Regions from separate parts of the Homo sapiens genome. Here region 2 is linked to region 1. Evidence: fine-mapped expression QTL. Tissue or cell type: esophagus muscle. Region 1 holds a variant in brackets; the other region holds the start of a gene. All regions are shown on one strand. Distances are between the middles of the regions. Region 1 overlaps GALNT13 (polypeptide N-acetylgalactosaminyltransferase 13). Region 2 holds the start of GALNT13 (polypeptide N-acetylgalactosaminyltransferase 13).

Region 1 (15,806 bases):
ATATACAGATATGATACCTACCTGCGGTACAATGGCAGATAAGCTATCTGGGTAAAAATGGTAAGAGAGTGCTAAATGAAAAAACTGAAGAATGTATGAAGACTTTAAGGAGATTAGCCTTTTGCTTGGCAAAGCGGAGTGGGAAGGATAGTCCTAGTGATGTGATCAGCACATACGAGGTCAGGGATGGAAGAATAAGCTGGCTTGCTGAGTGCAAATTAAGCATCACATTGTTATATATTGTTATATTGAGGTGAAAGCAGAAAGAGTGAATGCTTTACAGATGATGTTGAGGACAGGATGAGAATACTGAACATAAGATGCATACCCACATCCTGTTTTTAGTTGTAGAATTTTAGAGCATTAAAGCTGTAAAAAATAAGTGATATCATGTAGATGTGTAAGAGTAAGTTAAGAGTGTACAGCTAGATGCTACTTACTCCTCCTGACCCTCCTCTGAACAAACCGCTGAGCTAACAGCCTATAGATGAAACCTGAAATCAATTCAGGCATAGGAAAAGGTACTGTCTGGGAATAAACTTGGCAGCTCCACTGGTGACTTCAATACCATCTATGAATTCTCCATGCTGACTTCAGGATGGTGTGAATATGGAGGAAGATAATATTTTAAAAAATAATTCACATTGCTAAAGGTATAATTTTTGTTGCTAAACAGTTATCTCTTTGATTTCAATACAAATTTTCTTGGGTTATTTTTACAGATGAGGGAGAAAATCATTATGACAAGTTTATTTTCTTACAAGTTTTATTTCTGGATTTTTGTTGACACACTTTTCGAATTGACTGCGTTCCAAATACCTAAAGAGATCTCCCAGAGGATGCAAAGGTCCACAATGACTAAATAATGGGTGTGTAAAGAGAAGTTTAAGCCCGTGGACAAATAGTGGCAAATAGCAGAGCTTCAGGTTCAGAGAGACCTCCGTCACTAAGCAGCTCGGACATATTGGGAATCCTGTAACTTCTTTGGCTTCAGTTTCACTTAGCGAAGCAGTTGGCAAAATTCGATATATATCAAACTGTGAACTTTTATAGTAAATATTGTCCTGATGAACTCGCACAAGAAAAGTATTTTATAATTTAAATGTAGGGAAATCAAAACCTATATGATAGAGCTGCACCAAATATACATGTAGACATTTTGAATTCAAATATATATTCATTTGTAAACTATACCTTAATAAAAATAAAACAAAAATGAATACATGTATATGTATCTAGGCATACATTGTTTTATTACTCTTTGCTTTATTGTGCTTCACGGATATTGCACTTTTTAACAAATTGAATGTTTGTGACAACCCTACATGGAGCATGTCTATTGGCTTCATTTTTCCAACAGCATGTGCCCACTTTATGTCTTTGTGTCAAACTTTGGTAATTCTCCCAATATGTTAAACTTTTTCATCATTATTTTATCTGTTGTGATGATCTATGATCAGTGATTTTTTTTTTTTTTTTTTATTTGAGATGGAGTCTCGCTCTGTCGCCCAGGCTGGAGTGCAGTGGCGCGATCTCTGCTCACTGCAAGCTCCGCCTCCCGGGTTCATGCCATTCTCCTGCCTCAGCCTCCCACGGGCGCCTGCCACCACTAACTATTGTTAATTGTTTTGTGGTGCTGCAAACTGTACCTATATAACAACAGTGAACTTAACTGATGAATGTTGTGTGTATTCTGACTGCTCCACAGACTGGCCATTCCCTATCTCTCGCTCCACAGACTGGCCATTCCCTATCTCTCGCTCCACAGGGCTTCCTGTTCCTGAAACACAACAATATTGAAGTTAGGCCAGTTAATAACCCTACAATGGCATCTGTGTGTTCAAGTGAAAGGAAAGTCACATGTTTCTCACTTTAAATCAAAAGCTATAAAAGATTAAGCTTAGTGAGGAAGGTATGTCAAGAGCCGACACAGGCCAAAAAGTAGGCATCTTGCACCAAACAGCTGGAAAAATAGTGAAGGGAAAGGAAAAATTCTTGAAGGAAATTGAAAGTGTTACTCTAGTAAACACATAAATGAAAAGAGAGCAAACAGCCTTATTCCGTATATAGAGACAGTTTTAGTGGTTTGAATAGAAGATCAAACAAGCTATGAAATGCCTTTACACCAAAACTTCTTCCACAGCAGGGCCCTAACTCTAATTCTATGATGGGTGAGAAAGCTGCAGAAGAAAATTTGAAGCTAGCAGAAGTTGATTTATGAGTTTTAAGGAAAGAAAGATAACATAAAAGGGCAAGGTGAAGTAGCAAGTGCTGAGGGAGAAGCTGCAGCAAGTTATCCAGAAGATCCAGCTAAGATCATTGATAAATGTGAATACAGTAAACAACAGATTTTCAATGTAGATAAAACAGCACCCAATTGGAAGAAGATGCCATCTGGGACTTCCATAGCTAGAAAAGCGAAGTCATTGCCTAGCTTCAAAGCTTCAAAAGACAGGCTGATTCTCTTGTTAGGAAAAATATAGCGAGTGACTTTAAGTCAAAAGCAATGTTCATTTATTTACCATTCCCCAAATCCTAGGGCCCTTAACAATTATGCTGAATCTACTCTGCCTGTGCTCTGTAAATGGAACAACAAGGCCTGGATTATAGCACATCTGTTTGCAACATGGTGTACTAAATATTTTAAGCCCACTGTTGTGACCTATTTCTGAGGAAAAAAAGATTCCTTTTAAAATATTACTCCTCATTGATAATTTACTCAGTCACCCAAGAGCTCTGTTGGAGATGTACAAGGAGATTAATGTTTTCATGTCTGCTAACACAATATTCATTCTGCAGACCATAGATCAAGGAGCAAGTTCAATTTTCAAGTCTTACTATTTAAGAAATACGTCTTCTAAAGTTCTCACTGCCATAGTGATTCCTGTAATAGATCTGGGCAAAGTAAATTGAAAACTTTATGGAAAGTATTCACAATTCTAGATACCGTAAATAACATTTGTGATTCATGGGAGGAGGTCAAAATATCAACAATATCAGGAGTTTGGGAAAAGTTAATCCCAACCCTCTTAGATGACTTTGAGGGGTTCAAGACATCAGTGGAGGAAATAATTTCAGATAAGGTGGAAATAGCAGGAGAACTAGAATTAGGAGTGGAGCCCGAAGACGTCATTGAATTTCTGCACTCTCAAGCTAAAACTTTAATGAATGAGCATTGCTTCTTATCAATGATCAAGAAAAGTGGTTTCTTGAGATGGTGTCTACTCCTATTGAAGATGCTGTGAACACTGTTGAAATGACAACAAAGTATTTAGAATATTACATAAACTCAAGTCGATAAAGCAGTGTCAGGTTTTGAGAGGATTAATTCAAATTTTGAAAGAAGTTCTACCATGAGTAAAATGCTATCAAACATCACATGCTACAGAAAAATCTTTAGTGAAAGGAAAAGTTGATTGATGTGATAAACTTCATTGTTGTCTTATTTTTTAAAATTACTACATCCACCTAACTTTCATCAGTCACCACTCTGGTCAGTCTGCAGCCATCAGCATTGAGGCAAGACCCTCCATCAGCAGAAATATTACCACTCACCGAAGGCTAGGATAATTGTTAGCATTTTTAACGATAAAATATTTTTAATTAAGGAATATACATTGTTTTTTGAGACACAATGCTACTGCACGCTTAATATGGCTACAGTATGGTGTAAACATAACTCCTATGCACAGGGGAACAAAAAAATTCATGTGCCTTGCTTTAAATGCGATACTTGTTTTATTATAGTGATCTGAAACTGAACCCACAGTATCTCTGAAGTTTGCCTGTGTATATGCATGTACATACATACACACTCACACCCCTCTTCATCTATGGATTAAAAAAAGGAAAGAAAGAAACCCTGTGGCAAGATAAAGCAAGTAAAGGGCATTTAATTCCTGAGATCTTTGCAGAAAGAGACAAGATTCAGGTCCCAATAATACAGCAATGCCTTTGCTTTCTTACTTTGTAACGTGTACTGCTGGAACAAGGTTTCATTAGCACAGGCTCATGCTAGAGATTTGAGAAAACGTTTGTTTGTAGTTTTTCTAAAGGGTCATGAAAAAAGAGTATTTTAAAAGAAGTAACTATACATATATTAGGATTTTAAACATAATACAACTGGGAAAAAAAATGTGGACACCTAGTCTTTCATTATATAAAATTAATTTAACAGAATATTTTAGATCCTTCTCACAGAAGTCCTTGAAATTATTTAGATGTTTTAGGTATTTGAAGAATTGTAAAATGTCTTTGGACATTCTCCCTAAAAAGAAAAATCCAGAACAAACCATACATGTACGTGAAAAAGAAAGAATGCTTACCATCTGATATGATTTGGCTGTGTCTCCACCAAAATCTCATCTTGAATTGTAGCTCCCATAATCCCCACGTGTCATGAGAGGGACCTGGTGGGAGATAATTGAATCATGGGGGCAGGTTTTTCCCATGTTGTTCTCATGATAGTGAATAAGTCTCACGAGAGCTGATGGTTTTATAAAGGGCAGTTTCCCTGCACACGCTCTCTTGCCTGCCACCATGTGGGATGTGCCTTTGCTCCTCCTTCACCTTCCACCACAATTGTGAGCCTCCCCAGCTATGTGGAACTGTGAGTCCATTAAACCTCTTTCCTTTATAAATTACCCAGTCTTAGGTATGTCCTTATAGCAGTGTGAGAACGGACTAAAACATCATCTATGAAAAGAAAAATACAGAGATTAAAAGGAATTGAGATTTGAATTGGCTTTATATGTAGTATCATCCATTATAGATAGTACTCATTTGATTACAATATAAATTCAGAAGCAGAAATCATTACGACTTCAATAAAGTATACATAAAATCAGGAAATCACCTAGTCACATTATAAAACACCTTTATGAAGATACAGCTATAATATAAAAGTATTTTGAAAATGGTTGATTTTATACTATTGGAAAGTATAACTGGATGTTAAAATTTCAGCCCAGATACCAAGATACAATAAATGTGAAATGTAAAATCAGATTTCCCTATGCAAAATTTGCAATGACAATCTAAAATCAGATTTTCCTGTGCAAAATTTGCAAAGACACTTTGGAAATCTGATTTCGTGACTTTAGACACTTCAACCAGCATGAGGAGGAAAAGGAGGTATGTTGGTTTGCTGGAGCTGTTGTATCAAATTACTGCAAACTAGGTTGCTTAATAGAAACCTAGTAAATTGCTTAATAGAAATTTATTGTCTTATAGTTCTGGAGGCTAGAAGTCTGAAATCAAGGTGTCAGAAGTGCCATACTCCCTCTGAAACCTAAGGGAGAATCATCTTTTTCCTCTTCTAGCTTCCGGTGTTTGCCAACAATCCTTGGTGTCCCATGGCTTGTAGATGCATCATTCCAGTCTCTACTTCCATCATCACATGGCTGTCTTTTCTCTGTCTCTATTCTCTTATAAGGACGCCAGTCCTTTTAGATTAAGGGCCCATCTTACTCCAGTATGACTTCATCATGAGGACTATCTCCATAAGTGTGCACATTTTTTGGTACTGGTGGTTAGTACTTCAATATATCATCTGGGGAGCCACAGTTCAACCCATAATGGAAAGTATCAGAATATGAAGAAGATTACAAGATTTTGCCTGGAGAGATTAGTTGCCCTCCCTCTAGAGGAGATGGGCTGGGATTCTAGCTTCCAGTAAGAGGAGGATTCAAGGCCAGGAAGTTCTTGAGCTTGCAACCCATGCAATCACACAGATCCCTACAATCTTGGAATTCTTGGTAATTTTATAAAAATAAGTTCTGCATTTTCATTTTGCACTGGGACCTGCAAATTATGCAGGATGCCAGTTGGAGAGCTTGGTATATGCTTCTGGTACTTGAGAATATGGCAGGCTGTGGCCTGACTCACACATGATAAGGCTGGCTTGTGACAACTGAATACAGGGAGCTGACTGCACTGCCTAAGGTTAGCCTGCCTCCCAGAGTTTTCACAAAAAGTGGCTCACTTATAAAATATGCATTGTCCTCTCTCTTTGCACTTCAGTTAAGAGGTGCTCAGAGATGGGAATCTCTAAGAAAATCCAAATGGTCTCAGGACAGGGAGCTTTAAATCTCTGGCAGGCCAGAGAACAGGAAGGAGTTATACAAACCAGTTCAAGTAAGACCTCTCTTACAGCTTTGCCACTCTGGAAGAATAAAAAAATAAAAAATAAAAAATAAATTGATTAGCAGACTGGGTGAATTTAGGAGTGGGTAGGAACAGTGAGGAATAAAAAAAAAGCTTAAGTCGTAAAACAGAAAAAGCCTTTGCCTCTGCAGGCTGCCAACATAAATTAGGCCCAATGTGAAGAAGGGGGAATTATTTGATATTACATTACATTTAGAGTTTTGATTAGTACTACTAAACAGTATATTCTAATTTCTGAATTGAATCCCAAGGTGATCTAAACAGGTTAGCCAAAAAAAAAAAAAAATTCATGTACACCATGTTTTTCATTTAGGAATAAGGAAAGATATGTTATCTACTCCAATACATTGTAAAGGGTTAGTGGTGTTGTGGCCTGAATTGTGCTCTTCTAGAAATTCATATGTTGAAGTCTTAACCCCCAGTTCCTTAGAATGTAACCATATTAGAGATGAGTCTTTAAAGAATTTTGGCATCATTAGGGTGCCCTAATCTAATGTAACTGGTGTTTTTATAAAAAGAGGAGATTAGGACACATGCAAACAGAGAAGGAAGACCGTGTGAAGACACATGGAGAAGATCCCTCTTACAAGCCAAAGAGAGTGGCCTCAGCAGAAACCAACTCTACTAAGATCTTGATCTTGGACTTCCAGCCTCCAAACCTGTCAGGAAATAAATTTCTGTTGCTTAGGCCACCCAGTCCATAGTACTTTGTTATGACAGCCCTAGTGAACTAATACAACAGTAAACAATAAAAACTGAGTTATTACAGTGATTAGTTTGTTGGTTTGTTTGTTTTTTTTAGAGGAGTCTCGCTCTGTAGCCCAGGCTGGAGTGCAGTGGTGTGATCTCCGCTCACTGCAAATTCCGCCTCCCGGGCTCACGCCATTCTCCTGCCTCAGCCTCCAGAGTAGCTGGAACTACAGGCGCCCACCACCACACCCTGCTAATTTTTTGTATTTTTAGTAGAGACGGGGTTTCACCGTGTTAGCCAGGATGGTCTCAATCTCCTGACCTCGTGATCCATGCGCCTGGGCCTCCCAAACTGCTGGGATTAAGGCATAATAATCAACAAGGTCCATAAAATGGAGCATAGACATCATCACCTGTATCATTATCACCGTCTTATAAGATAGCTGAGATTAAAAGAGTTGACTCAAAAATGGCCATTTTAGTGGTTGTTTGTAGACCTAGCTTGACTGAAGGACTACATGAGAATATATGTGATACTAGATAGCTCATAATTTTACAGTTGAGACAACATGAACATTAAGTGTGAAACAGAATTTTAAAAACACTATAAATTACTAAATCCATAGGATTCATACAAAGAGCTCTACATGTTACATTTTGCAGTACTGTAAGTTGGTATACATTCATAGAAATATAAATGTAATTGCACAATAGAAGAATAGAGCAAATTTATTTAATGTAATATATACGAAGCATAGAACACATTTTTTAAAAAAGGTAGTGTTCAATTAATGTTAACTTTCTCCCTGTTTCCTCTTTTATAATGGAAGGAAAGGCACAGAAATTGATTGTTTTTCCCTGCTTCTAGTCAGCTTAATCAAAGTGATTAGACTTTGAACCAATTAATTGTCATTAAAGTCAGGCTGCCACTGGAACAAATGGAAACATATGCTAAATCTATGGTTCATGTAACACAGTTCTGCTTTACTAACTATTGGTAACCGATGATAAAGCAATTTGAGAGATAATTAGAAAAGGAAGAAGAATAGTTTCCATTATTTTAAGAGAATGTACAATGAGATTTTATTAATGAATGAATCAATCTTGTATCGTGTAGTTATCAGTATATGTGATAGTTTAAGGTAAAGTGCTTCATTGGTGTGCAGGTTAGAAATATTTTAACTCACATAGTCAGGCATAAAGGTTTCAACCACAGCAAGGACAGGCTGGGCCTTACACATACTAACTGAGAGTGTCTGTGGAGTAGTGAGATGGAAAAACAAGCAACAGCTATAGGGAATAGCTGCTTCCTAGGAAATACAGCATGAGATTTGGAGATTGTCCCCAAAGTCATAAAGGAACTCATAAGTAGTTAATCTAGAGGGTCATAATACAATGCTGAAATTATCAGAAACATCTGTCATCAGGTATTATAAACTCTCTCTCGGGACTTGTGTAGTGGCCAAGGGTCAGCACAGACAGGCAAGAGCAAACATTGCTGGACCCTTATACTAAAATTTCTTGGCAGTATTGGGAAGAAATCCTCAATTTGGGATTAACTCCAAGACTGGGAATAATAACTCTAAATATCAGCTACTGAATTTTGTCTGTGTGCTAGAATCTCTGCAAAGTATTTCACATATAATGTTTTCAGTATACCCAAAGTGAATTCCATGAACCTTTCACAGTAGTAAACATGAAAAAAATTTTAATAATGACAATTATGGGTTAAAAAGCTAATGGATATAAATGATAAATAATTGAGATCAAACCTAATAATTTCCAGATAAAATCAAGAAGGATATGTATATACTGACATGCACTGACTTTTTTATTATTATGAAGAGTAAAAGACATCCTAGAAACAAGCATACAAACGAGATTATTTCCCA[G/C]GTACACAAAGCAAATTAATCCTGATTTTACATTAATCCAAGAAAAATAAGGAAGCATTATCTACAGATTGTTTTTAACATTGCTTGTGAGCCAAATATTTTAACATCTGTTAATTTTTTTTCAAGTACAAAGGCCAAAAAAAATTTAGCAGACATATAATTTATATACACATATAAGTGCAGAAACTGTTCTACAGATATATCTTTCTTAAATGTACGTTACTTATAACTGTAACAACCACAAATGAATCTAAATTAGAAATTGAGGATCAAGGGATATATGGTAGACTGCTCTCTGAAAGGTTCAACAGGTACTGTTTCCAAACTATCTTAAGACACTGGAGAAGAATACACTGTATAAAAACGGCCTGAGCCATTAGAAAATTAAGGCTGAAATGGATGTTATGATGTTTCCTTTTACACTGGCATTTGTACACTTTAAAAGGAAGCAATTCTAATGTCGAAGACTATCCTTCAGTATTGAAATAATCCTATAATGAACAAAAGAAATTTCTCTAGAAATTTTCTTCTCTCAGCTTAAGATTCTCACTTGTGTAATTAAATAAGTTTGTAATTGTGTTTAAGATAATACGGTTTGGGGAGGATATGAATATTTCTGTTTGATGGGTTTTTATTTTATTCTTCTTAGGTGACCATATGTTCTTCATAAAAAACATATGAACATGAAAAAGTAAAGAACCTAGAAAATTTATTTGTGAATTGAATATATGAAGTCTGTGTTATATTTTACATAATTCAATTAAATGTACTTCACATTTCTCAAATTTGTATATTATTGAGAAAATGTATAACCTTTGTGAAGAATTTTCTGGGTTTTGTTGTTGTTGTTGTTGTTGTTTTGAGACTGGGTCTTGCTCTGTCACCCAGACTGAGTGCAGTGGTGTGATCATGGCTCAAGCAATCTGCCAACCTCAGCCTCTCCCACTCAGCCTCCCAAGTAGTGGGGACAACAGGCGTGTACCACCATGCTTGGATAATTTTCTTTTTATTATCGTTTGTAGAGCTGACATCTCTGTATGTTTCCCTGGCTGGTCTCAAACTCCTGGGCTCAAGCAATCCTCTCGCCTTAGCCTCCCAAAGTGTTGGGATTACAGGCGTGAGCCACCGAACCACCGACCCAGCCCCCCATAATTTCCTTTTAAGCGGTTGGCAGAAGAGGGTATTTGTGTTCTGTCATTGATTTTGCCGCTTCCTCTCACCACTTCTTGTGGTTTTCATAGAAGTTCTGAGTAGCAATGCTGCAGAGGCAACTCTTCCAAGACTAACTCGTTCAGCTTACGGAGCTCCAGAGTTTATGTTATTTGTAAAGCTGACTTCCTCAGATTTCATCAGATATCTTTGAGAAACAAAAAGACCCTGACATGACCTTTCTCATTATGTATTCTGTTGACATTGCAAGGAGAAAGAAAAACCCACAGAATACTGAACAATGCTTATCGTAGTTAAAAGAAGAAAACACATTCTATAATTATGTGCTTAATAACCCTCATGAGGCTGGGCATGGCGGCTCACACCTGTAATCCCAGCACTTTGGGAGGCCGAGGCAGGTGGATCATGAGGTCGGGAGATTGAGACCATCCTGGCCAACATAGTGAAACCCCGTCTCTACTAAAATACAAAACATTAGGCCGGCATGGTGGCGCATGCCTGTAGTCCCAGCCACTCGGGAGGCTGAGGCAGGAGAATCGCTTGAATCCGGGAGGCGGAGGTTGCAGTAAGCCCAGATTACGCCAGTGCACTCCAGCCTGACGACAGAGCAAGACTCCATCTAAAAAAAAAAAAAAAAAAACCCTCATGAAACCTTAATAATCAATGTTGTAAATAAATTATTCACACCAGGAACAAAATAATAAAGATTATTATAGTTCAATTGAATTATCTAACAAAGAGTCCATAATCCACCGTGACATTTCTTGGATATTTTCAGAAGAATTGATGTAGTTAAGCTTAGGCAAACCATATTAGAGAGATAAGTGTAGAGCCTACCTTTAATAAGATCTCTAGAGAAGATACTTCTACAACCTTCAGAAGCTCACTGACAGTATTTAATAAAACTTACACGATGTACTTATGTTATCAGAAGAAAGATTTAAACTTCTATATGAAAAAATGACATTGTAGAATTGGAGAACTGGTCATACAATAGTAGGAACAGGGACTGCCTTCACTGAGCTCCATGCAGTTTGTAAACTTTATTTTACTTAACCTATTGAGAGCTTTATAATGCAAGTATCATGAAAGAACTACAGTGCCAGCAAATAATGGGTATTTAAAGGTTTGTTTTGTTAAACTGAGGCCTCACCAAAACATCATAAAACAGATGACTTTGTCCCTATTTTGCAGTTGAGGAAAAAGACTCAAAGAGATGAATTAGCTTTCTCAAGATAACATACCAGCAATCGTTTGAAAACACAAGTTTATCTGATACGAAAGCTTCCCTGGATAGATCTGCTCTATTGTGACATTTTAAAACATACATTTTTTTTATTAGCTGAATTTATATTTTCAGGTATTTTCTTACACTGCTGACAAAGAAATCCGAACCGATGACTTGTGCTTGGATGTTTCTAGACTCAATGGACCTGTAATCATGTTAAAATGCCACCATATGAGAGGAAATCAGTTATGGGAATATGATGCTGAGGTATAGTATTTTCTTAATTTACTTATTATTTGATGCTTAAGCTCAGTTATATATTTCAACATTCAACATTTAAATCTTAAGCTGGTTTTTATCTACATTGGCAGAATTAGATTTTCAAGCATGCAGGCTCATATCCGGTAATATTAGGATGGCATATCATATAAACAGGTTTCACCAAATTGGTCCATTAATATAAAATATGAATGAGGACAATAAAATCAGTTTTGTGTATGACAACTTGTTATCTCCATGTACATGCCAAACATAAATTAGGCAAGAGGTAAGCTAAGCCTATCTGAGAGGTTTGTATGAAGATGTGCATACAGGATAATATTGACAATATGTCCATATTTTCAAATTTTAAATTTTACAATACTAATCACTGACATTTATGTTCCTCAACTGGAAGGAACAATATCTGACAAGATTAACAAGATTTCTTTACTGTTTACAGTTGTAAATATTTTGCAGAATTCAGTAAACTAATTAGTCACATAAAAAGTTGAGTAGCCTCTTCTCAATATAGCACACCTTTCTGACAGAGAAGAGGGAGAGAAAACCACAAAATTACTGTTGGAAATTTATCTCCAGGCAGTGTGTAAAAACCAGATCAGCCATCAGATGGAGCTAATAAAAAAGAAATATTTTCCTTTGCATAACGAAGCTTACTCTTGAAAACAGCTTCATTTCTTTCAGTTTTCTTTTTTGATTAACAAAATGAATTGGTTGTCTGTGTTACATTTCCCACATTATTAAGTGGTAGGTGATTTATTTAAAAGGAAAACTAAACTTCGTTCTGCTTAAAAGATAAATACTACTATAGAGGTAAATGAGTCTCACAGATGCAGTATTCCATGCAAGCCTAAAATTTTCTACAAGAATAACATTTTAAAAACCAATCTACAGAGTTTTTGGTATTGTTGATATTTTAGCAAGACCTTTTAAAAACCTTTTTGAATGTCGTTTTAATATTTGCATGAGTCTGTAGTTTCTTAAGTTGAATACTAGAAAAATTTACTGAATTCTCATAGGATTTGAAACTGGTTGTGCAGGGTTAATTTTGGGCCTAACACTCATACAGTGTTACCAGGATCTTAGGACACAAAATCATCTTCTGGGCCATAATTGAGGGCAAACACTGAGAATTCTTCCTATGTTGTACCAGTGTGATTAAGATGCTACTGCCTTCGCTATATCTTACTCACCTTGTCTGACCACCAATTTTTTTCTCTTCAACTATTATTTATTGGTACCATCCTTGATATTAAGCCTACAGAAAACAGTGCCTTTGCAAAATACATGTAGGTAAATCCTTCATCAGTACTCTCTTCTATGAGGAAAAGTGCAGTAAAATGTACAGATATAGTAGAAATCCTGTAAGTGATATTTGTTTTTAAATAAAACTTGTTCTTCTTGTTGTTACTGTTCCGTTTCTACCAGGAACCTGGGGCTCTACTGAGCTTATGCTAAAAATAAGAAAATCTAGAATATATTTATTAAGAAAGGGGAATGATCGTGTACATTTTTATAAAAGCAAGCAGTGTGGAATTTTAGAATACCACTTTTAATCTTTAAACTTTTCCATAACTCTTGAGTGAACAATGTCATAACTCAAATTCTTTCATTTCTCAAATAACTACTGTTAGCAATTTGGTGTATATTTTGGTTTACATTTTCTGTCAGCTAGTAGCAATGCTATTGAATACTAAGGAATTTTAAGTAAAAAGTGAAAAAAAAAATAGGTAGCTTCACATAGGTAGATAAATAAATGATTTCTATAAATTTACTCTTTTGGATGACTAGTAGTTATCTGTTGCAGTATTTCAGAGCACTATAATATTTTGTGTCATGTTTACTTTGACTTTGGAACACACGCACAAAAAGCTTATAAAATGTCATAAATATTGAGAAATTTTTATTTTAAATAATTTGATCATCTGAATTATATAGCTTAATTAAATTCTCTTATATGTTTATGTTTTCAAAATTAACTAGTGATGTTTACATTGTCTAATGACAGCACTTTGCCAAATTAAAAAATGCATAGGTCATAATCTAATAAATGACATGAGAATAGAGCAATTGTAGGAATAATACATTGCCTTTCTGGAAATTTCAGCTTTGATGTGCGATTATATTTTTGAGAAGGTCGTTAAAAAGGATTTTTTTTAAACAAAATTGAAATATAACATTTATTACTATGCTTTTCAGTTTTACATTTAGGGTTTCTTTAGTTCACAGAATGGTTCCACCCCTTGCTACCCACAGGGTGATTCCAGGAGTAGTAGCATCACCTGGGAACTTGTTAGAAATGCAGGATCCGAACCCATGCTAAACACACTGAATCCAAGTTTGTATTTTAACAAAATCTCCGATCATTCATATACATATTTACATTTGAAAAGGACAGGGTCAAATATCTATGTATCTTCCATAGTCTTTTTATACACTGGTTAAAGAATGTTACAAATTTAGGAAAAGGCATGAATACAATTTGGAAAATGGCAAGGCCTCCAGAGGGGAGCAGAGAGAGGGAAAGGGAGCAAAAGGATAAGAGGTGTTGAGATGAGAAAGAGGAATAATTGCTCAGTGGTTCTATTCTTCTCATATTCCAACCTGTGGAAAGTAAATGCGCACTGCTTACTACTTTAACTCAATTCTTTATCTTTTGCTGGCAAGGACAAAATTATTCTTTGAAAAATCTCTGAGGTGGTGCAGGTTCAAGGCAGAATAAAAATTGTTGGAGTTCATAGAATTACAGAACTGAAATGTACCTTAAAGTTCTCTCCTTTAAGCCTTTATCAGGAGGAACTAAAGCATAAAGATTACACCGCTAGCAGCAGAGCTAGGATTCAGGTCCTAATAAAGTATTCCAAGCAAGCTAGCTATCAGTACAATTGTGAATCTCACCATGTGAACAGCACAAATATTCCATCACCTTATCTCCCATAGTCCTTTCAATCTTAGAAAAGAAAGTCATAAATAGAAGCAAGATTGTTGGAATATCCAGAGAAAAATGGAAACAGTGTCATGAAGCCTCAAAAGATGGAATCTATCCAGCTACTTTGGTTTTGTTTACTTCTTAGGTGAGTGGGGGAAAAGAGAAGGAATACAGTTCAACACGTATTTATCTGTTTTCTCATGCAATTCTTACAATAGTCTTATAAGACAGTTATTCTATTTTTCACATTAGTAAAATGAAGCATAGGGTAAATGCCTCGTTTAAGTTTGCACAGCCAGATTCTGGCAGTAAATCCAGCAATTTTTCTACTACACTACATTGCCTCTTGATGTTGTCGAAAAACTGGAAATAATTAGATTCTCTTTCAGTGGTTAAGATATAATAAGCTAAATATACAGTATTTCAAATGGAATAGCTAAATGCTATCAGTTATTTGTTATGCCAAATTTTGAACTAAAATTTCTCATTTTTTTAATAGGGGGAAAGGTGTTCTACAATAAATATGGTCCATTTAGCTAAATAAGCAGTCATAAAACTACTTTGTCATTTTGCTCTAATTGCTTACAAACTTCAGCTATACATATTCATAATATAATATCTAATTGCTTATCCTTGTAATTGAATGAAACTAAGCACATGTTAGTAATAAATGCACTTCTTTGGTCAACTTTGATTTCAAGTGTAGTTTCTCACACCCCTAACTAAATAGTCCTTAAATAACCACGAATTCAATTCACTGTCATCTTATATGTGGCCTAACCTGTTTGAATTGAGGGCATCCTGGGCATCATTAGCAAAATTGTGGGGTACCTACGTGGTCTGGAAGCTTAAATAAATTGCACAAACCCTTCTGTGCCATGAAATGCCTATTGCCAGGATTAAATGAAGAGAAAAAAATTCATCTCACTGAGACATTTTAAAAATTATTTTTATAAAGTTCTGTCATCCATTAATTCTATTGTTTTCAGGTGTTCTTATATTCTGTTTGAACATTATAATTATGTTCCAATCAATTTAGAATATTTCCCTATGATATGTGCACATAATTACATTTCTTTTTGAATAACTAGGCAGCTACATACAGTGTGAGAATCTAATTTTAGATCAGAACACTTATGTTCAACAAACACTATGCAACAAAGAAAAAAAGGGAGAAAAATATGATACTAAAAATAACTTATTTTTCATGTGACTGAGCAAGTTGACTTAGAAAATACTTGTTGTGAATTCTATATACATCTGTATCAAATAATTTCCAGAGTCACAATATAAGGAATTTTTTTCCATAGGTGAAATGTGTTAGATTAATATTTAGACTTTACTTACACTACCATCTTTTATTTACCTTTATTAGAGAGCAGGTAAATGGGATTATAATTTCAAGGTAAGTGATCTTTAAGTGCATCCCAGCCATTCCCCTGTGTAGCATTCC
Region 2 (15,806 bases), 560 kb before region 1:
CGTAATTGTTATAGTTAGTATGCTGGAATTATGAGTAAAGCCTCAAACAACTAATTAAGACACACTAGAAAATGCTGCATATAAGAGGGAGATATTTTAAGTACAGCTTTAAAATAAAGTCCAAGTGAAAACCAATAAAATGTATTATCTATTGAGCTATTTTTGATAAACATTCATGTTTAAAATTTAAATAGTGAAGTATTAGATACTTAAACATGAAAACAGTTTTGCCATTCTAATGAATTATTCATAAGCTTTAATAAGCAATCGAAACATGCTTGACATAATTATGTAATTTAATATATATATTTAACGAAATAATAACTATGTACTATGTGCCAGATATTGTACTCAGTCCCGTGAAGCAATGATACAGTCTCTACCTTCCTAGGATTCACGCTCAAAAAGAGGTATGACCATATGGTATATGTAAGTGAAAAAATCTTGAGAGATTGTGTATGTGTAATTGCTTCTTACATTGATTCCTGATGGCACTTAACATTTTACTTCATATCTGCCTTTTGATTTGCAGAAGTACACGGAAGTTACAAAGCAGCAAATCCACATTGCCATAACTGAATGCCAATACTTTTCCACATTGTCCTGATTTCTGCCTGGTTACTTATCTCTGTTTATGAATTCTGGACAGTAGTATAATAAGTCTTTTCCATATTTTCCTACTTTCTATTTAGTTACTTTTCTCTGTCAATGAATGCTAAATAGCGTACATAGTCAGGCTGGCATTACCACAAATTTTGTTGGCAGTGATTTGTTGCTCTCCGTGGTACTGAAATATCATTGTGGGCTGAAAATTAGTTGTTTTTTCCTAATTCTTTGACAGGAGTGATTACTGCCCAATCAAGAATTCAAAACATGGAGAGAAAAGGTCTGATGGGGGGAAGGAAAGATCAAAAACAGAAAGTCTTAAAGGAAAGATTTAACTGTTCATCAATAAATGGTTGGATTTAGGTATTTTATTCTCTTTGAAGCAATTGTGAATGGGAGTTCACTCATGATTTGGCTCTCTGTTTGTGTGTTGTTGGTGTATAAGAATGCTTGTGATTTTTGCACATTGATTTTGTATCCTGAGACTTTGCTGAAGTTGCTTATCAGCTTAAGGAGATTTTGGGCTGAGACACTGGGGTTTTCTAGATATATAATCAACTTACAAGGGATGTGAAGGACCTCTTCAAGAACTACAAACCACTGCTCAAAGAAATAAAAGAGGATACAAACAAATGGAAGAACATTCCATGCTCATGGGTAGGAAGAATCAATATCGTGAAAATGGCCATACTGCCCAAGGTAATTTACAGATTCAATGCCATCCCCATCAAGCTACCAATGACTTTCTTCACAGAATTGGAAAAAAGTACTTTAAAGTTCATATGGAACCAAAAAAGAGCCCGCATCGCCAAGTCAATCCTAAGCCAAAAGAACAAAGCTGGAGGCATCACGCTACCTGACTTCAAACTATACTACAAGGCTACAGTAACCAAAACAGCATGGTACTGGTACCAAAACAGAGATATAGATCAATGGAACAGAACAGAGCCCTCAGAAATAACGCCGCCTACCTACAACTATCTGATCTTTGACAAACCTGAGAAAAACAAGTAATGGGGAAAGGATTCCCTATTTAATAAATGGTGCTGGGAAAACTGGCTAGCCATATGTAGAAAGCTGAAACTGGATCCCTTCCTTACACCTTATACAAAAATCAATTCAAGATGGATTAAAGATTTAAACGTTAGACCTAAAACCATAAAAACCCTAGAAGAAAACCTAGGCATTACCATTCAGGACATAGGCATGGGCAAGGACTTCATGTCCAAAACACCAAAAGCAATGGCAACCAAAGCCAAAATTGACAAATGGGATCTAATTAAAATAAAGAGCTTCTGCACAGCAAAAGAAACTACCATCAGAGTGAACAGGCAACCTACAAAATGGGAGAAAATTTTCGCAGCCTACTCATCTGACAAAGGGCTAATATCCAGAATCTACAATGAACTCAAACAAATTTACAAGAAAAAAACAAACAACCCCATCAAAAACTGGGCGAAGGACATGAACAGACACTTCTCAAAAGAAGACATTTATGCAGCCAAAAAACACATGAAAAAATGCTCATCATCACTGGCCATCAGAGAAATGCAAATCAAAACCACAATGAGATACCATCTCACACCAGTTAGAATGGCGATCATTAAAAAGTCAGGAAACAACAGGTGCTGGAGAGGATGTGGAGAAACAGGAACACTTTTACACTGTTGGTGGGACTGTAAACTAGTTCAACCATTGTGGAAGTCAGTGTGGCGATTCCTCAGGGATCTAGAACTAGAAATACCATTTGACCCAGCCATCCCATTACTGGGTATATACCCAAATGACTATAAATCATGCTGCTATAAAGACACATGCACACGTATGTTTATTGCGGCATTATTCACAATAGCAAAGACTTGGAACCAACCCAAATGTCCAACAATGATAGACTGGATTAAGAAAATGTGGCACATATACACCATGGAATACTATGCAGCCATAAAAAATGATGAGTTCATGTCCTTTGTAGGGACATGGATGAAATTGGAAATCATCATTCTCAGTAAACTATCGCAAGAACAAAAAACCAAACACCGCATATTCTCACTCATAGGTGGGAATTGAACAATGAGATCACATGGACACAGGAAGGGGAATATCACACTCTGGGGACTGTTGTGGGGTGGGGGGAGGGGGGAGGGATAGCATTGGGAGATATACCTAATGCTAGATGACGAGTTAGTGGGTGCAGCGCACCAGCACGGCACATGTATACATATGTAACTAACCTGCACAATGTGCACATGCACCCTAAAACTTAAAGTATAATAAAAAAAAATAAATGGTTGGATTTATTTATCCATTCAACAGGAATTTACTGTACGAAAGGCACTGTGCTTTGAATAAAGTTACAACAACCACCTCCCTTTATAAACAAATAAATCTATTTTTTTTGCTCTCATATATCCTACTATATAGTGGAGAAAATATATACAAATCACCGTCATGGAAAAATGTAAATTTGCCACTGTGTTTGGTGCAAATGACAGATGATATAAGGCTTTATGGATAATAAGATAAACTAGAGCAAATTTGAGTGTATTAGTATAAAGCTTAGTTTAAAACTAATTATACTTTCTTCATGTCATGAAATTATTGTTACAAAACCTATAATAATAAGATATATTGAATCATAAGACTTCCAAATAAAACAAATAAAACTTTAAAACTTTTAATGAGATATTGCTTTCATAAAGTCAACATTTTAACAAAAGATTTTATGCTTGAAGTAGCTATATTATTTACTGATTGTGACATTTTAAATGATTGTGTAATAGGTTTATCATCATAAATGATGAGAAAATTTGTCTGCACAAGTATAGGTGAGAAAGATTGTAAACATTTGCTTCTATGACCAAATATTTACATCAGTTAAAATCTTATTTAAAATATATCATCTCTACTTTTCTTTCATTAATTGATTCAAATTTTTTTGTGGCTATCCATGGATTTTATCAAATCTATTCAACATAATGATAAAGCTTGAATATGAAGAATGCCCGTGCATTATAAGAACAGTCAATCTGCAGCTGACATGGTTACCACTAAAATAACAAATCAACTATATATGAAATAGAATTACTTAATCTTTATGTTGCTAAATCTTTGTGTTATTAGCTGGAGCTATTCCCACTAGCAGTTTCTGCCCAACCTCCTTGCTTTCCCACCCACAATGGGCTATACTTTGAACTGCACATGCAGGCCATTCTCCAAGAAGCTCTTATCAAGTTTCTTATGATCCAGGCTATCTAATTACGGGCCCTAGCAACTTGAGGCTACACTACTTGGCTACTTCTGATGGGTGTAGTGATCGATATGTTATGGCATATCTATAAACTATTTGTGGTGCATGAGTTGAAAAGCTCAACTCTTAGCCTATTTCAATTTTCTTCTAGAATTTATTATCACCTGACGTAAATACACACCTACTTATTTATTTGGTTAGGATAGCCCTCCCCAACATTTTTGGCCCCAGGGACCAGTTTTGTGGAAGACAATTTTTCCACAGACTGGGAGAGGGGATGGTTTCAGGATGATTTAAGCACATGACGTTTATTGTGTACTTTATTTCTATTATTATTACATTGAAATATATTATGAAATAATTATCTAACTCACCATAATGTAGAATCAGTGGGAGCCCTCGGCTTGTATTCCTGCAACTAGATGGTCCCATCTGGGGGTGATGGGAGATAGTGACAGATCATCAGGCATTAGATTCTCATAAGGAGCACAACCTAGTTCCCTCACATGTGCAGTTCACAATAGGGTTCACACTCCTAAGAGAATCTAATGCTGCTGCTGATCTTACAGGAGGTGGAGCTCAGGCAGTAATGTGAGCAATGAGGAGTGGCTATAAATACAGATGAAGCTTCACTGGCTCACCCATCCCTCATATCCTTCTGTGTGGCCCAGTTCCTAACAGGCCATGGACTGCCATAGGTCTGTGGTTCGGGGGTTGCAGACCTTTGGGTTAGGACATACCTCAGCAAAATGTAGTATTCATGAAGGCAGGATCTATATCTTTTTTCTCACTGCTAGACAGTGCTAGGCATTTTCTTCTTCTCACTGGTAGGCACTGGGAATATAGCAGTGAGCATTAGCCTTAGCTCACTGCTGTATTCCCAGTTCCTAGTAAATAACTGTCATTCTGTAAGTGCTCAATGTATATTCATGGGATGTATGACTGAACCCTAAGTTTTGTGCAGGCTGTCTTTACTTTCCTCTTTGTCTTCAAAACCTATTGCAGTGCTTAGCTCATTGTAAGTACAAAGGAGGTAAGCAGAGCCCCAGAGTATAAAGGTTCTTATAGGGCATGTTAGAGATTTTAGACAATTTCTTAAAATCAATGAGAAGCCACTTAAATGTTATAATTAGAAGAAAATATTATTAGATTTCATTTTAGAAAATAAAGTTATTGCTTTCAGTGTCCCTTAATAATGGCATCTCCATCATCCTACTCATCCAATCTTAATCTCTTAAAGTTATATAATACATTTTCCTTTATCCATCATTCCTAATAATTTGCCAAAACCTGGTAATTTAATTTCAGCAAGACATAACTATCTCACCCTTTATTTCCCTTTAGAATGAGCGCCTTGGTTAATCACATAATGGACAATTGTAGCTGCTAAACTCATATCCCTGTCTTTTGTATACTCTGTAGCTAAGGCCCTATACATTTGGCCTTATATTGGCCAATAGACATTCTTGGCCTGGTAGCCCTTGTATTGGCCTTATAGCCAAGAATTGTACAGTATTGGTCTTACCATTTATCTAAGCAAATACTTGCAATAGCTCCACTTTGATTAAAGATAAATGCCAAACTTTCTGTTTGAAAAAATATGACTTTTTAATAACTTTCAACACTCATTCAGATAAATTATTGTGGTTATTATTCTTATGAGGTAAATAATGATAACTACCTGATTTTTAAAAAAGTATTTAAACTTCAAGAAATATTGCAAAATTACTACAAAGAATTAACACATACCCCTCACCAAAATTTACCAATGGTGTTATAAAAGGTTGCCACATTTGCATCATCATTCTCTCTATAGGTATTTCTGGACCTTACAACCTCTATGTTCTTTTTACTGCAAAATATTTTATTATATTTTTTAAAGATCCAGGGCTTTCTTATATATGATCACAATACAATTAAATTAGGACACTTAATATTGATATAAAACTAATTTGATTATAAATAAAAGTCATACAGTTTAGATATTATAGTTTTTATTAATATTTTGAATTAGATTGTCTCAGTAATGCTCTTTATATTAATAGATATTATTCCCAGTTTGCTCTCCAATTCTGGATTACACATTGCATTTAGTAGTCATGGTTTTTAAATCTCCATTAGTCTGGAATATTTCCTCAGCTTTTCTTTGACTTTCATCACAGTGACATTTTTGAAAAGTATAGGCAAGATATTGTGTAGAATTTTCCTTAATTTAAGGCTTTCTTTGCTTTCTCGTGATTGCATTCAATTATGCATTTTTTAATCTGGAATCCTAAATCAATAATGTTATGTACTTCTCAGTGCATCATATCATGAGGCTCATGATATCACTTGGTCCCATTATTGGTGACTTTAACCTTGGTCAGTTGGTTAAGGTGATGTTTACCAGATTTATCCACTACATGTAATTTATTATTCGTTTGTAATTAAGGATCTATAGTATATTATAAAAACAGCCTCAAGTTATTTTTGTGTATGCATTCTCCTTGAAATATGGCATTATAGTTTCTCCCATCAAGACATGGACTATATTATCTATGTTTGGGCCATGTAACTTCCATGGCTAATGAGACACCAGCAAATGTACGTCCACAGAATCTCAGAGTACTTCACATTGGAGCTTGCACTCCCTTGTTGCTTTTTGGAGCCCTGCAACTACGACTACTGCTAGCCTATTGAAGGATGATGGGCTAGATTAAACAAAAGACAAAACATTGCAGCTGAGTCCCACACCCTCAAGACTAATAAGTATGCCACACCAGACAAGTGAGTGAAGCCATCCTAGATCTCTAAACCAAACTGAGCTAGCCAGGGCAGAAACCAACCTGACAACCCACAGAGCTTTGAGAAATTACAGATGTTTATTGGTTGGGGCTAATAAGTTTTGGAATGGTGTGTTATGCACCAAAAGCCAATACTTTCTAGGGTGATACTTTGGGACTACGTAAATATCCAATTACCCAAATAAATTTTACCAAGTTTATGATTCTGCCTAAGTTAAATATTATCACAAAGACTGCAAAATGGAATTGCGCCTTTTTTTAAGAGATGAAACATGTAAGAATGGGGGCTTATTTGTCTTTGAAAAACATAGGACTAGTAAGTAGCTGTATCAGCATCAGAACCCCAATCTTTTACCTGGTCCACAGTTTTTCTCAGTATGCCATGTAGAGGTGAGTGACCTGATGTTAGGACTGGAATTCACTAGAGAGAGCAGTAGAGAGACATTCCAGAGTGTTATGAGTGGGACCCTGTGTACTCACACATGCACAGAAGCATCTCTGGTAAATGCTCCATAATTGACGGTAGGGCAGGATGGACAATGTAGGAGGAGACATTAATACAGTTATTAACATAGAAATTTAAATGATACTTGACTCACGAAAAGATATAAAGATAATATCTCTGGAAATTGCCTTTCATGAGTATAATCAAGAATGGCATTGACATACTAGATTATGATTAATAGTATCATATGTTTGTCAAACGTGGCTGTTTAATATTTTTATGTAGTCGTTATATCCTCCCCCAATTCTGCCAAAAACATCCTATAAGATGTGTGAAGTGACACTGTGAGAAGCAAGGACCCCTGTCAGCCCTTATTACAAACAAGACAACTGACACCCGAAGGGCCAAAACTAGCCAAGAGCCACAGTGAATAAATTGCCAAGCAGGCACTTGAACTCGGCAATCCCAATTTCCTAGAAAAGTTCCTCTCCCATGGCAGTGGGGGACAGGTCCCAAGTCTTTGAGACGCTAATAATGTCTGCGTCTTAGGTTTCTGCCTTGTGCCAGGCACTGTTCTAAAATCTTTACATGTATTTAAACTCAGTACCATGGGGGTATTGGTACAACACATTAACTGAGACATTCATACGTCCAGGTACTTCGGAGTGGGTGTGTGTTTAATATCATACCTACTTGCCTGAGAAAGGAATTCAAAGCCCCACTTTTTTCTTTACCTCTTCATAAAAATTTGAGAGCCACAAGGAAGCGCTCTGTGTTTCCAGTACTCTTACAGTGCGTTCGGTGGCAGTAGTCACCGCCAACCAGAACACTAGGATCCTGCCAGGGTGTAGATACTGTAACCAACAAGAGGCCAACCTCCGTCCTTTCTGCGGAGGGCGCCGAAGCGTCAAGTACCCCGCAGCATCTCTCGGCTGGAGAGCCGACGGCAAGGGTGGGGTTGCCGGCGCTTTCCCCGAGGGCAGTCTCTGATCCTCCAGCTCCCCTCTAAGAGGCTCCCTGGTGCATTGGGCGAACGCGGTGCACGCAGGCCGGCTTTGGCGTTGTGGGGCCCCAAAGCGGCCAGGGGTCGCGAGGCGCCCTCCGGCGAGAGGAGCTGACCCCAGGGTTGCTCTTGGGGGCCGTGCCTGCCAAGTATCGCGGGACTTGCGCACATCGCAGAAGCGCCAGCTCCAGAAGCAGCTGGAGCGCGCTCGGTGCGCACCGCCCCAGCCCGGGGAGGAGCGGGAGCAGGGAGGGAGGAGGGCTGGGGGTGCTGGTTACGTAAATGATACTAGCCCAGTGAGAGGCCTCCAGGCTGGGGCTACGAGAGGAGGAGGGACCACGCGAGGAGGAGGGACCGGGAGGCGGCGGGCTGGGGTGGGAGGGGGGCGGGGGCCGGGGAGAAGTGACCAGGCGGCGGCGGCTCTGCTGAGGTGACAACGTGCTAGCAGCCCTCGCTCGCTCTGGGCGCCTCCTCGGCCTCAGCGTCCGCTCTGGCCGCGCTCGAGGAGCCCTTCAGCCCGCCGCTGCGCTATGAAGGCCCCTCTCTGGGGCTGGCCGAGGCTGGAGCCGGCTCCCTCTGCTCGCGGGCAAGTGTGAAGAGAGAGGCGCGGGCGGGAGCCGGGGCTGCGCGCGGCGCTCGCGGGCCGGCGCGGGTTCCAGGTGAGCGCGGACTCGGCGAGCCCCGCACTCGGCGCGGCCGGCCGGCGCCTGCTGGGCTTGATCTGAGGCTGAATCCCGTGTGTGGACCGCCGTTCCCTCTTCGCGGGATCGTTGGCCAGGATAGCAGGTCTCCGTCTCTTTCTCGCTTCCCCTCTTTTCCTCTTGATTGTCTGGGACGAGCTCCCTCTGGGCTGCCAGAGTGCCGGGGCTAGGTGCCGCAAAGTCCCGCGGCGAGTGCCGGGGCGCGGAGCCGAGCGCCCCGGGCCGGTCCCAGGGCAAAGGCAGGGGCGCGGGCGGACCTGGCGACGCGGCCTCCCGGGAGCTCCGAGTGCGCTCGCTTGCGGGGCTGCAGGTGTTGCGGGAGGACCGCGTGGCGCGGAACTTTCTGCCGCCGCCCACCTTCTGCTCTGCTTTTCTGGCTACCCCGGTGAGTTGTTGGTGGCGGGGGGGGGGGGGGGAGCGGCTCTGGCCCCCTCTGCGTTCTGGTGACGTTCCTCCGCGGGGGTGGCTCGGCCTCCAAGCCCAGACAACTTTCTCGCACCAGCTGCAGGCAGCCCCGGCTGCGTTGCGGGCGTTTCTACTCGACCCGACACCAGGCGCTCCCTGGGTCTTGGGTGTCTTCCTCGACGGTTGCCTTCGTATAGTGCCCCCTTTGCCTCGCTTTTTCAGAGTCCTCTTGCCTCTCATTCTCGCCGTGTGTGTCTCTGCCTCTGTTTCTCTTTCTGAGCCTTGGTCCCCTCAGTCCACACTCTCCGGCCATGTATCTGTTTTTTTCTCTTATTCTGTTTCCCTCTTTCTTTCTTGGGATATCTGTGTCCCTGTTAATCTGTCTTTCCTTTTGTCTCTCCGTTTTGCAACATTTGTTCTCTTTCTGTGTCTGCTTCTCGCAGCTTATCTCTGTCTCCCTCTGTCATCTCTCTGCCCCGTCTTCCCGAACACCAGCCCCGCGATCCCGAAGCGCCTTGGTTAGGGGAGCAAGCCCTGGCGCATCTAATGGGTATCTCCAGGTGCAGAGATTTTCCTGCGGGGTCAGTGGGGACGCGGAGGAGACAGCCTGCCCTTGTCCAGGCTGTCGTGGACCTGAAGGAGGGGCGCAAGGGGTTAGAGTGGAGGGCACCGCAGCAGGCTCCCCTTGCCGGGTCCGAGGGCGCTGCGCTGCTGCGAACCTGAGCGCACTGAGGCTGCTACTCTGGACAGCGAAAGCTGCGCAAGCCCCTCCCGCATACCCGATTCTTTGACTATGGTTAGTTGAATTTCCAGGAGGAGAGTCTGCCTCCCCAACCTTTATAGCCAGCTGCAGAAGAACGGACAGTGAGCAGGCAAACATAGATGCTTTGGGGTTCAGGGAAACTAACCTCGAAAGGGTGGGAGCTTTCTTCAGGCAAAGGTGTTGCTAGCAGAGGAGAGGAGCTTTGGGGACTGAGGTATGCCTGCCTTAAACTACCATGCATTCATTGCTTAGGAAAGCGGTTTCCTTGGAGAGATCGTGGTCAGCCTTCCCTGAAACAACATAACAACATAGAGGTTTTATTCGCAAGGCTAAAGGCACTTGGCTGCCAAAGCCCCCTTGAAATTTCTGGTATCCTTGAATATTTTCAGCTTTATGTGAAAGCTGCCTTTCCTCAGAGTCTCAGTCCGTCTCTCTCTCTTTCTCTCTCTCTCTTTTTCTGTGTCTCTCTCTCTCGCTGTCTCCCTGTCTCTCTCTCTCTGTCTCGTTTGCGTTCATGCCCTCTAGTGTTAAAGAAACCTGCTGGTTCGAGAATATTGAAAAGTAAGGTCAACCTATTGGTTATTTACTTTTGGACCTCTCACCTTCCGGGATAATTCTCCTTGTATTACACGCATCCTTTCCTTTTCCTCAAAGAATGACTTTTGCATTACATTACTAATCTTTCTTTCCCCCCGCACCCCCCTCCCGCAATCTCTGTTTTTTTTTTTTTTTTCTTTCCCCACGTCTCCTGCAGAATAAGAACCTTCATATTGAAACCCTGTTCGTTTGATTTGGGAATTGGATAGGTCTGGAGAATTTGCGTAGCCTAAGGCAGACTTTGAACATTAAAAAGATGCATTTCTCTGCACTGTTTGCCATAAACCAGGATTTCACATCTCTCCTTTAGCCCCTATCCACCTTCAATTCCATGGAGAATTTTCCTGGCTGCTTCTGCTTGTTTAAATAAATGCTTTTATTTCACCATTTCTGTGATGCTTATCCCATTCCAGGGCTTAAGGTACTTGCTTAAGTAGGGGCACTGTGTCTCGGATCCGCTTTGGAGAGGAAGAATAGAAAGCTTTTCTAAAGGAATTATAGGGTACTGCTGGTATAGATTAATTCCAGTTCGGAAAGTCCTGAGTGGGAATGTGAGAATGGAGGCTGTCTCAGATATGTAGTCCCTAGGACAGTGTGGGGAAACTAGTAAGTGCTTAATAAAACTTGTTGGTTGATTGATTAGCATGCAGCGGATCATAGGCTTCCAAGTTACCAGGTATGCTAAGGAGCCTGCAGCTAAATTCCACCTCCCCGCTCCTTTTTTGGGAGGTTTCATTTAGATTTTTTATGAATGGTAATTGAGAACTAGTAGAAGGGATATTGAAACAGGGGTCTTCTGCTTCTTTGTAGTTCATGTTATTGCTTGAATTTGCCCCTTTTTGCAAGTCTACAACTTGGCTGGTGTTCTTTAACACAGTCATTGCAGAATTGAAGAAATGAGTTTAGAGGGGCCCTGAAATGTGGCATCTCTCAATCTCCTTACCTGAAAGTAAGTTGGGACATGGCATCATTTTTGGGTGAATACTTTCATGTGGTTTCTAACAAGTGAAAAGTTCTCTCTTTTAATATAAAGAACAGATATATCAGCTTAAAATACTTGGGGGCTATATATTGATCTGTAAGCTGGATCACTTACCCTAAATAATTTATGGATTCCCCTACTGCTTCATATATATATATATATATGAGATGTGCGATACTGCATGAATGTGAGAATTTCCTAAAGTACCTGGAAACATAATGCCTCCTAATTCAAAGTAATAATAGAAATCCATGGGCAGCAATACTACTTTCTTGATGATATGCTAGTCACCTCTTAAAATAGTTGCTAATTTATCATGAGTATGGTGCAGGAGCATGTTCAAAGCAATTTTTCTTTAAAAATATTATTTATAAATCACTTGATACTGTACCCAATTTTTATATTTAAAAATAGCAAAGACATAATGAAGGTGGAAAATCTGATATTGTTTGAGAGACCTTCTATTTGTTTTACAGGTTTAACTTATGCATCTAACTTTTTAACTTACTGGGCAGTCATTTCAGTTTAAACAGTTATGTCAGAGTGAACTATGTTGTTATCATGCCAAGTTGATTTCTAGAAATAGTAGTTGTAACAGGAGCATTTTCATGTAATAGAGCTTGTACAGCTTATAAAGACTTCGGGATTTTAGGAAAGGGGTGAGATAAGAAGTAACAGTAACAAATGGGTATTTTTATTCTTTATGAATGGGCAGATGAAGAGAATCCTGGTGTTTCTGAATAATAACAGTCGAGAAAATGCTTGAGAATAAAGTAGGAATAGAATTAAGCCTTACTGTCTAAAATAAATTATAATGCTACATATCTCTGTTAGGTGTTCATTGTCCTTTTAAAAATGGACACTTCATATAGTTATGACCTTTAACTAATTTGCCTTATTAGACATGATATTTTAAAGAGAAACCTCTTGCAACAAACAACACATTCTTGACAGCGACTCTTAGTACATCACCTTCTTGTATTTGTGTCCCTGTCAGAAGGAACATGTAGACATCTTAAATCTAATGGGATCTAACAGGATCACTGCTTTGAAGTCTGAATGACCATATGCCTAATTATCAAAGGATTTAAACTGGGCTTTGGTTCTAAATCCTTCCCTCTGCTCTTGTCATCAAAATAAACACATGTGAAACATCAAATCAAGTCCTACATATATATACTCATATTTATTCTGACAACCTATTTAATGACATTTCTAACAGCAACCCCCCCACACTACACACACACACACACACACACACACACACACATACACACACAGTGGCTAAGCATATGTTTGAAAACGTAAATCACATTTAAAGATCTGGCACTGTCTGCTTTGATAAACCATTTATTATTTTATCAGATTAGACTTCTGTTTACAATTTCTATCAAGGCACATTGTTGAAGGACTTCTGCCATTCAAATATATGCATACCTGTGTTTGAAAAGTCTGGTTTTTCATTGTGAAATTTAGCTTTTCAAGGAAATTTATGAAAATGAATACATTTAATTCAGTAATAGTCATCCGTTTGGGGCATTATAAACAATTATATCTAGTTTTTGGGAGGAGCAGTGTAAACCAAACAGACTTTAATCACTTGATATTTGTTTCTTCTTGATTTCATATTTAGACCTGTGTCTGTGTTTTCAGTGTAGTGTATCTATTATAATACATTTAATTGGTGTTAGCTTGATTACCAAGAAATGATTACAGGTGGCTAAAGACATCTGTGTGATTCTGATTACTGTGTGCTCTCATGTCCTTAAATTCATTTATAGCTATGAGTTTTTCAAGCTGTTTTTAGTATGTCTTTAGACTTATACATTTAAATGAAATTCTTAATTTTTAAAAGTTATCACTGCAGAGATTGATGGGATCTAAAATTTAAATTGTTAAGTTAAAGTTGGGAGACATGCTTTTCCTTTAAGGGCTCAACTTCATTCAATGTCCACGTAATTAGAGTCCTCATGAACTGTCAGGCTCTCTCTTAATGTGTACACTACCATAATTACCTACCCTTCAGAAATGAACTCAAACACAATTCAAAATATCAGTTATTAAAAATTGTTCCAGGTTAATGGTTAATCCTCTCAAGATAGTTTGAGAGGGATGTAGGGAGAAGAATGACTATTATTACCATAGATATGAACATATTTGTTATCATCTTGTAGACTATGTGAGAAAATTAAATACAATGTCCATAATAAATACTTAGATTTCTTTCATATTTTTTAAAGATATGCTCATTGTTAAGATAGATGGGGGCTGTGCAAGATATATCATGTTAAGGTTTTAACATGAAGAGGAATTAATTGGGACTCTGTTTCATATATTCCACTACATTGAATTGTCACTTAAATCTTATTTAAGCTCTTATACAACATTTTAGGAAGAGTGTGATTAATCTGCTTGTTGACACATTGGTGAACGTAATGCATGTGGTGAGTAGCCACTGTAAACAGAAAGAAGAATTTAAAAGCATAGCACAATCAAAAATCATCCAAATAACATCTTGAAGATAGTAGTAAATGTCAACTTAGTCTCTTGTCTTATATTAATTGCCTTGATATTACAAGCAAAGCACCTCTTTTTTGTTAATAAAGTGGATTTTGACATATGAGGAGGATTATGTAGCTTAGAAGCATAATAACTGACTTAATTTCCTCTTGAGATTATTATTATATAATTAGTTTCAGATAGAGAAGGTGAGATTTATATGACTATCAAAACCCCAATGAAATACAACCATTAGTTTAAAGAAAGAAAAATGGAATAAAATATATGTAAAGGTGTATCCATTCCAGCTTATTTATGAAGAAGGTAAGATGGTGTATTGGGTTATAAATTGATAAAGTGGCTAAAATTCGTTGGTTGTTTACTTTGTATTTGTACTGTGGTAAGTAAACATCTGGCAGGTCTTAACATGTTTTATCTTTATAACAACAATATGAGTAATAGTATGTTACTGTTGCCATTGTATAAATGAGGCATCACCTCAGAATCACACAGCTAATATGTGTGAGCATCAAGGATGACACCAGTTTATTCTGCCTTGAAGCCAATAATCTAATAGTTCTCAGTCTGACATTTTCACTGACTGATAATTTAAAAAAATCAAGTGGTAAACTTTATGTGATTATTTTCTTTTGTATAGTAAGAATGATTGAAAAAGTCTACTTCTATCATCTCAATTTTATAAAAGTGGATATTTTAACACCAAATAACATGGAAGAACTGAATCTCAAAATAAATAATAGTTATTTAAAGAGAATAAATTAAGCTCCCTGTACATTTTTCCACATTGTACTCATTTTCCTAATTTCACCCAAGACTGATGAAAATTTCATCACAAAAAATTTCCCGTAGATTGTGCTTGGATGCCCATCTTACTCTGAACCACTGTGATATGCTGCCTACTCTATGCACCCACACAGCTCTGGCCGGCATGGTCATCATATTCATGACTTGATGACATAATGCTTATAGCTTATTCCATTCTCTTCCTAGTTTCAAATAAAATTTGGACCTAGGAAAGATGCTAGCACTTGCTTTAGCCTTAGTTTACTGTGTTAATGTTTGTTGAAATGATTGGAAGATTAGGGATGACTTGTTCCTTCTTGGTAGTTAACTGCCATTTACTGACACTAAGATGGTGCCACTCTGTGTCCTGGGATTGGAAATGAATATTGGGCAATGACAAAAAGAGCTTGTCAGAACTAATTTCTCCATCTTCCCTCCAAAAAACACATCCCAACTTGTACGGGTCAGTTTGCTCCATTTTTACTTCTTTGCCTTGGCGAAAGTGAAGCAGGTTTGGTTAGTGCTCTTGTAAAACTGGTGGTTGGTTTTACATCCCAGGTTGCTTTAGATAGTGTCTATTTGGGCCATCAAAGAGGAAAAGAATACTGGTGGAGTGTGTGAAATGTGGCTAAATTGACCTAAGACATTAGTTTCATTTCTACCAAAGCAGGTTGTAAATCCAAATTACCTTGAGTTTATTTATTCATTGTAGTTACAGGTGTTCAGGTCCCACTGATACAGAGTCTCATTTAACTGGGATGGATCCACAGAATCTACCTTTATGCACATTTTCCTATGTGATTCTGAGGTGCAGTGACATTTCAAGCAACTAATCTGCTTGTAGTATATCACTTAACAGATTTATTTAACAAAACACAGCAATTACTATGCCCCAGAGTTGTTCTAAGTGCTTTGCAGATATTGATTCATTTAATCATAAAGACCTTCAAAAGTAGATTTTATTAGTATTC

What was found.
Region 2: GALNT13 starts here. The variant in region 1 is fine-mapped to the expression of GALNT13 in esophagus muscle (GTEx, PIP above 0.99).

What each region holds. Positions count from the first base shown.
Region 1 is chr2:154,427,315-154,443,120 of GRCh38, forward strand. It overlaps GALNT13 (polypeptide N-acetylgalactosaminyltransferase 13), which reads left to right. Exons shown (of 13, transcript NM_052917.4): 12 at 11,278-11,412. It overlaps GALNT13-AS1 (GALNT13 antisense RNA 1), which reads right to left. Exons shown (of 5, transcript NR_161181.1): 5 at 8,539-10,536. Among named protein-coding and RNA genes, the nearest start is that of GALNT13-AS1, 22 kb to the right of the region's middle. The variant G/C (reference allele first, on the strand shown) is at 8,748.
Region 2 is chr2:153,863,434-153,879,239 of GRCh38, forward strand. GALNT13 (polypeptide N-acetylgalactosaminyltransferase 13) reads left to right here and starts at 8,489. Exons shown (of 13, transcript NM_052917.4): 1 at 8,489-8,870.